Linked DNA regions of Homo sapiens. The protein of the gene in region 1 purifies or fractionates together with the protein of each later gene. This does not show direct contact. Each region holds a gene or a part of one and is shown in the gene's direction. Other genes may lie near its edges.

Region 1 (3,750 bases):
CCACCGCCCATCAGTGGAGGTGGCTATCGGGCTCGTCCAGCCAAAGCAGCTGCCACTCAAAAGAAAGTAGAAAGAAAAGCCCCTGATGCTGGAGGCTGTCTTCACGCTGACCCAGACCTGGTGGGTGCACTGATGTTTCTTGCAGTGGTGGCTCTCTCATGCAGAGAAAGCCTGTAGTCATGGCAGTCTGCTAATGTTTCACTGACCCACATTACCATCACTGTTATTTTGTTTGTTTATTTTGGAAATAAAATTCAAAACATAAACATATTGGGCCTTTGGTTTAGGCTTTCTTTCTTGTTTTCTTTGGTCTGGGCCCAAAATTTCAAATTAGGATATGTGGGTGCCACCTTTCCATTTGTATTTTGCCACTGCCTTTGTTTAGTTGGTAAAATTTTCATAGCCCAATTATATTTTTTCTGGGGTAAGTAATATTTTAAATCTCTATGAGAGTATGATGATGACTTTCGAATTTCTGGTCTTACAGAAAACCAAATAATAAATTTTTATGTTGGCTAATCGTATCGCTGAATTTTCCTATGTGCTATTTTAACAAATGTCCATGACCCAAATCCTTCATCTAATGCCTGCTATTTTCTTTGTTTTTAGGGGGTGTTGTGTCCTACAGGATGTCAGTTGCAAGAGGCTTTGCTACAACAGGAAAGGCCAATCAGAAATAGTGTTGATGAGTTAAATAACAATGTGGAAGCTGTTTCCCAGACCTCCTCTTCTTCCTTTCAGTACATGTATTTGCTGAAAGACCTGTGGCAAAAGAGGCAGAAGCAAGTAAAAGGTAGATATCCTTGTGCTTTCCATTCGATTTTCAGCTATAAAATTGGAACCGTTAGACTGCCACGAGAATGCATGGTTGTGAGAAGATTAACATTTCTGGGTTAGTGAATAGCATTCATACGCTTTTGGGCACCTTCCCCTGCAACTTGCCAGATAAGCACTATTCAGCTCTTATTCCCAGTCTGACATCAGCAAGTGTGATTTTCTATGAAAAATTCTACTATGACTCCTTATTTTAAGTATACAAGAAACTTGTGACTCAGAAGATAATATTTACAGAGTGGAAAAAAACCCCTAGCATTTATAGTTTTAACATTTGAGGTTTTGAATGAGAGAGTTATCCATAATATATTCAATTGTGTTGTGGATAATGACACCTAACCTGTGAATCTTGAGGTCAGAATGTTGAGTGCTGTTGACTTGGTGGTCAGGAAACAGCTAGTGCGTGAGCCTGGCACAGGCATCTCAGTGAGTAGCATACCCACAGTTGGAAATTTTTCAAAGAAATCAAAGGAATCATGACATCTTATAAATTTCAAGGTTCTGCTATACTTATGTGAAATGGATAAATAAATCAAGCATATCCACTCTGTAAGATTGAACTTCTCAGATGGAAGACCCCAATACTGCTTTCTCCTCTTTTCCCTCACCAAAGAAATAAACAACCTATTTCATTTATTACTGGACACAATCTTTAGCGTATACCTATGGTAAATTACTAGTATGGTGGTTAGGATTTATGTTAATTTGTATATGTCATGCGCCAAATCATTTCCACTAAATATGACTATATATCATAACTGCTTGGTGATAGCTCAGTGTTTAATAGTTTATTCTCAGAAAATCAAAATTGTATAGTTAAATACATTAGTTTTATGAGGCAAAAATGCTAACTATTTCTACATAATTTCATTTTTCCAGATAATGAAAATGTAGTCAATGAGTACTCCTCAGAACTGGAAAAGCACCAATTATATATAGATGAGACTGTGAATAGCAATATCCCAACTAACCTTCGTGTGCTTCGTTCAATCCTGGAAAACCTGAGAAGCAAAATACAAAAGTTAGAATCTGATGTCTCAGCTCAAATGGAATATTGTCGCACCCCATGCACTGTCAGTTGCAATATTCCTGTGGTGTCTGGCAAAGGTAACTGATTCATAAACATATTTTTAGAGAGTTCCAGAAGAACTCACACACCAAAAATAAGAGAACAACAACAACAACAAAAATGCTAAGTGGATTTTCCCAACAGATCATAATGACATTACAGTACATCATAAAAATATCCTTAGCCAGTTGTGTTTTGGACTGGCCTGGTGCATTTGCTGGTTTTGATGAGCAGGATGGGGCACAGGTAGTCCCAGGGGTGGCTGATGTGTGCATCTGCGTACTGGCTTGAACAGATGGCAGAACCACAGATAGATGTAGAAGTTTCTCCATTTTGTGTGTTCTGGGAGCTCATGGATATTCCAGGACACAAAAGGTGGAGAAGAGCTTTGTTCATCCTCTTAGCAGATAAACGTCCTCAAAACTGGGTTGGACTTACTAAAGTAAAATGAAAATCTAATATTTGTTATATTATTTTCAAAGGTCTATAATAACACACTCCTTAGTAACTTATGTAATGTTATTTTAAAGAATTGGTGACTAAATACAAAGTAATTATGTCATAAACCCCTGAACATAATGTTGTCTTACATTTGCAGAATGTGAGGAAATTATCAGGAAAGGAGGTGAAACATCTGAAATGTATCTCATTCAACCTGACAGTTCTGTCAAACCGTATAGAGTATACTGTGACATGAATACAGAAAATGGAGGTAAGCTTTCGACAGTTGTTGACCTGTTGATCTGTAATTATTTGGATACCGTAAAATGCCAGGAAACAAGGCCAGGTGTGGTGGCTCATACCTGTAATTCCAGCACCTTGGGAGGCCAAAGTGGGCTGATAGCTTGAGCCTAGGAGTTTGAAACTAGCCTGGGCAACATAATGAGACCCTAACTCTACAAAAAAAAAAAAAATACCAAAAAAAAAAAAAAATCAGCTGTGTTGGTAGTATGTGCCTGTAGTCCCAGCTATCCAGGAGGCTGAGATGGGAGATCACCTGAGCCCACAACCTGGAGTCTTGATCATGCTACTGAACTGTAGCCTGGGCAACAGAGGATAGTGAGATCCTGTCTCAAAAAAAAAAATTAATTAAAAAGCCAGGAAACAAGACTTAGCTCTAACATCTAACATAGCTGACAAAGAGTAATTTGATGTGGAATTCAACCTGATATTTAAAAAGTTATAAAATATCTATAATTCACAATTTGGGGTAAGATAAAGCACTTGCAGTTTCCAAAGATTTTACAAGTTTACCTCTCATATTTATTTCCTTATTGTGTCTATTTTAGAGCACCAAATATATACTAAATGGAATGGACAGGGGATTCAGATATTATTTTCAAAGTGACATTATTTGCTGTTGGTTAATATATGCTCTTTTTGTTTCTGTCAACCAAAGGATGGACAGTGATTCAGAACCGTCAAGACGGTAGTGTTGACTTTGGCAGGAAATGGGATCCATATAAACAGGGATTTGGAAATGTTGCAACCAACACAGATGGGAAGAATTACTGTGGCCTACCAGGTAACGAACAGGCATGCAAAATAAAATCATTCTATTTGAAATGGGATTTTTTTTAATTAAAAAACATTCATTGTTGGAAGCCTGTTTTAGGCAGTTAAGAGGAGTTTCCTGACAAAAATGTGGAAGCTAAAGATAAGGGAAGAAAGGCAGTTTTTAGTTTCCCAAAATTTTATTTTTGGTGAGATTTTATTTTGTTTTTCTTTTAGGTGAATATTGGCTTGGAAATGATAAAATTAGCCAGCTTACCAGGATGGGACCCACAGAACTTTTGATAGAAATGGAGGACTGGAAAGGAGACAAAGTAAAGGCTCACTATGGAGGA
Region 2 (3,750 bases), on another chromosome or scaffold:
CTTTTATTCTCACTGAGAGTGACTGTGGAGATGGTATTTCTAATTTTCCCTCCTTTTTTCTTCATCCAGGGCTTTTTTCTTACAGTTTCCCCAGAGTCAGTATTAAAGGTGGCTCACCATGCTTCTGAAAACAACAGGATTTTCACTTTGAATCTATCTGCACCGTTTATTAGCCAGTTCTACAAGGAATCATTGATGAAAGTTATGCCTTATGTTGATATACTTTTTGGAAATGAGACAGTGAGTTACCTTTCCTTTTTCAAAAGAACCTGGGGGTTTTTTGTTTGTTTATTTCTGATGTGTGTATATATGTTTAGAAATATATAAATTAAATCCTAAATTTTTGTGTAAATGTCCTTGAGAATTGTGCAACAAAATTGCCTCAATGTCAACTGCTCTCAGTATTTTCAATATTTCCTTCAGTATATACTAACTTCTTTCTTAGTGAAGCATTTATTTATTTATTTTTATATTTTTATTTTTTTGAGGTGGAGTTTCCCTCTTTTCATCCAGGCTGGAGTATAATGGCATGATCTTGGCTCACTACAACCTCTCCTTCCCGGGTTCAAGCAGTTCTCCTGCCTCAGCCTCCTAAGTAGCTGGGGTTATAGGCGCATGCCACCATGCCCAGCTAAATTTTGTGTTTTTAGTAGAGACAGGGTTTCACCATGTTGGCCAGGCTGGTCACGAACTCCTGACCTCAGGTGATCTGATCGCCTCAGCCTCCCAAAGTGCTAGGATTACAGGTATGAGCCACTGTGCCCGGCCCAACATTTATTTTTTTAAGGTGTTTGACGTTTGATTTACTTATAGTAAGAGTCATCCTTTTTACTGTAATTTCTGTGAGTTTTTACAGATGGATACCTGTCCTGTTACTATGACCACAATCAGGATAAAAAAGCACATTCATCACTTTTTTAAGTCTCTTCAGAGTCTAAGTCCATTTGATATTTGTTTAATAAATTATGAGTAAATTTTGATATATTACATTTATATTTCTTTATTAATAATATTTTTAAAATATTGTCTGTTATAGTTGAAGGTGATAAAATGGAATTTCATCTCAACAAGTACAGTTTTTTCTTTCTACCAAGAATGTATTTTCTTCCATTCTAAATTATGGAAATGCTTATTTACTTAAATGCTTATTTACTTTGATTGCTTGTTTACTGTTTATACCTCTTATTTACTGTTTATACCTCTTTAAAAATCCATGAAAGAGGAAAAAATCCTTCAGTGTGTCTTCCTATGACTTGGCCATGTCACTTGATGGTTTAATGTATACAATGAAGGTATTGTATTAATCATCCCAGAAGTTCATTCTGATTCTAATTCCATAGTTCTAACATAGTTTGAATATATTCATCAATTTTATATCTAATAACTGCCATCTGCCTAGAATAACATAAAAATTGACCTGGAAGTTTACGAGATCACCTGGGTAAAGATTAAAGGATGATCCATAGAAATAATATCACAGTGTATCTGCAAAGGTGATGGTTACATTGGTTATAAATGGTGACATTGGAAGGAAATGCTATATTCTTGATAATTCACAAATTGAGATACTGGCAAGAAATAGTGGTAATAGCCAAGTGCCATATAACTGCTAGAAGCCTAATTTGACTAAGATCTACCATTTAGTTTTTCCTTATTAACAGTTTTATTTTGTAAAGGGTAAAAGAAGTAAATGGGAAAAGTGCTATTCAAGCCTTTTGAATAACATTAAAGCATTGGTCTCAGTAGTCTTGAGAATCATTGGGAGAAGTTAACATTTGGTCTCAGAGTTCTAAATAGTCAAGAAAGATCAGACTGGCAGCACTTAAATAAGTTCTCTAGAGTTTAAGAGACAAATCTTAAAACTTTTAAAAAAGATAAATATGATTCCAAAGAGGCCGGGCACGGTGGCTCACGCCTGTGATCCCAGCACTTTGGGAGGCAGAGGCGGGTGGATCACGAGGTCAGGAGATTGAGACCATCCTGGCTAACACGGTGAAAGCCCGTCTCTACTTAAAATACAAAAAATGAGCCAGGCGTGGTGGCGAGTGCCTGTAGTCCCAGCTACTCGGGAGGCTGAGACAGGAGAATGGCGTGAACCCAGGAGGCGGAGCTTGCAGTGAGCCGAGATCGCGCCACTGCACTCCAGCCTGGACAGAGCGAGACTCCGTCTCAAAAAACAAACAAACAAAAAAAAAAAAACATAAATATGATTCCAAAGAATGAAACTTTGGAAGTAAAGAAAGCTTAGGGAGATTGAATGCCATAAAAAATGCTATTTGGACTTTATAGTCACAAATGATCTTAATTAAGGAGAGAATGTGGAGGGACCTTTTGAAAAAATATAGCAGAGCACGCAGAAAACTCTTTAATAAGAGCTCAAATTTGGAGGATAACGAGATAGCTGCCTCTGCCTTTGCCGGTGCAGTGAGAGCAGCTTCAGGAATCTTATGGCCTCTGAATATTTTGGCATCTTCAGCCTACCAAAACTGTGTCAAAAATGCCTCTCTTATTTCTGCATTGTCCACTGGACGTTTTAGTCATATTCAGACACCAGTTGTTTCCTCCACTCCCAGACTTACCACATCTGAGAGAAACCTGACATGTGGGCATACTTCAGCGATCCTTAATAGAGTGGCCCTCTTGCTTCCAAGTGTCTTGAAGCTGCCAGCCAGATCTCTAACATACGTCAGTACAGGAAAAGGCAAGAGAAGGATTGTGAAAGCTGTCATCTATAGGTTTCTTCGACTTCATTGTGGCCTTTGGATGAGAAGGGCTGGTTATAAGAAAAAATTATGGAAAAAGGCACCTGCAAGAAAAAAGCGATTGAGGGAATTTGTATTCGGCAATAAAACCCAGAGTAAACTCTTAAGATAAAATGACGACGTCCTTCTGGAAGAGGTGAAACTGGTATGTCCATGATCCTTATCAGAAGTGTCATGATCGAACAAACCTGAAAGTATAGATCAGAAGTTTCACTTGTTTCTCAGTTATTGAATATGTATCTTTGTGTACATATCTGCAAAAATGGATAAGTAAAAATCTCGATGTAAATTGTATCAATGAATATGTAAACATACAGTGACAACACTGAACTTATAAAAGTTTTAAAACTTAAAAAAAAAGCTCAAATTTGTAAAAGACATGTAAAAAGAAGGTGGAAAATGTATTTAGAATCAGGGAATGATGCTAAAAGTTTGGTAGAGACAAAAGAGAAAAGAAAGTCCCAAAAGTGGTTTAAGTTTGCAGCAGATGCTGATGATATCAAAACAATCTTCACTTAAAAAAAAAAAAAAGACTCCAAAGTACAAGCAACAAATGGAAAAAATAGATAAATTAGACATCATCAAAATTAACAATTTTTGGGCATCGAAGGACACTAACAAGAATGTGAAAAGACAACTAGTGGAATGGGAGTTAATATTTGCAAATCATATATCTGATAAAGGATTCATATTCAGAATATTTAACACAGTAACAACTCAACAATAAGCAAACTAACAACATAATTCAATAATGATCAAAGGAATTTAATAAACATTTATTCGAAGAAGATATACAGATGGCCAGTAAACACATGAAAAGATGCTCAACATAACCATTCAAGAAGTGCAAATCAAAACCAAAATTAGATACCACTTCACACCCATCAGAATGACAATTGTTTTAAAAAATGGAAATTAACAAGTATTGGTGAAGATGTGGAGAAATTGGAAACACTTGTGTATTGCTGGTGGGAATGTAAAATGGGAA

Evidence for each region. The genes of interacting proteins can lie anywhere in the genome.
Region 2: the proteins of FGB (region 1) and ADK purify together in Homo sapiens (affinity purification with mass spectrometry; 2 studies listed by BioGRID and IntAct, with this or other methods). This does not show direct contact.

Annotation. Positions count from the first base shown.
Region 1 is NC_000004.12:154,565,880-154,569,629, forward strand, and holds part of FGB (fibrinogen beta chain isoform 1 preproprotein), read left to right. Parts: coding exon 1-120; intron 121-609; coding exon 610-793; intron 794-1,713; coding exon 1,714-1,941; intron 1,942-2,501; coding exon 2,502-2,615; intron 2,616-3,302; coding exon 3,303-3,428; intron 3,429-3,634; coding exon 3,635-3,750. UniProt on the Homo sapiens protein: Cleaved by the protease thrombin to yield monomers which, together with fibrinogen alpha (FGA) and fibrinogen gamma (FGG), polymerize to form an insoluble fibrin matrix. Fibrin has a major function in hemostasis as one of the primary components of blood clots.
Region 2 is NC_000010.11:74,525,187-74,528,936, forward strand, and holds part of ADK (adenosine kinase), read left to right. Parts: intron 1-69; coding exon 70-240; intron 241-2,573; coding exon of another isoform or gene 2,574-2,588; exon of another isoform or gene 2,589-3,750. UniProt on the Homo sapiens protein: Catalyzes the phosphorylation of the purine nucleoside adenosine at the 5' position in an ATP-dependent manner. Serves as a potential regulator of concentrations of extracellular adenosine and intracellular adenine nucleotides.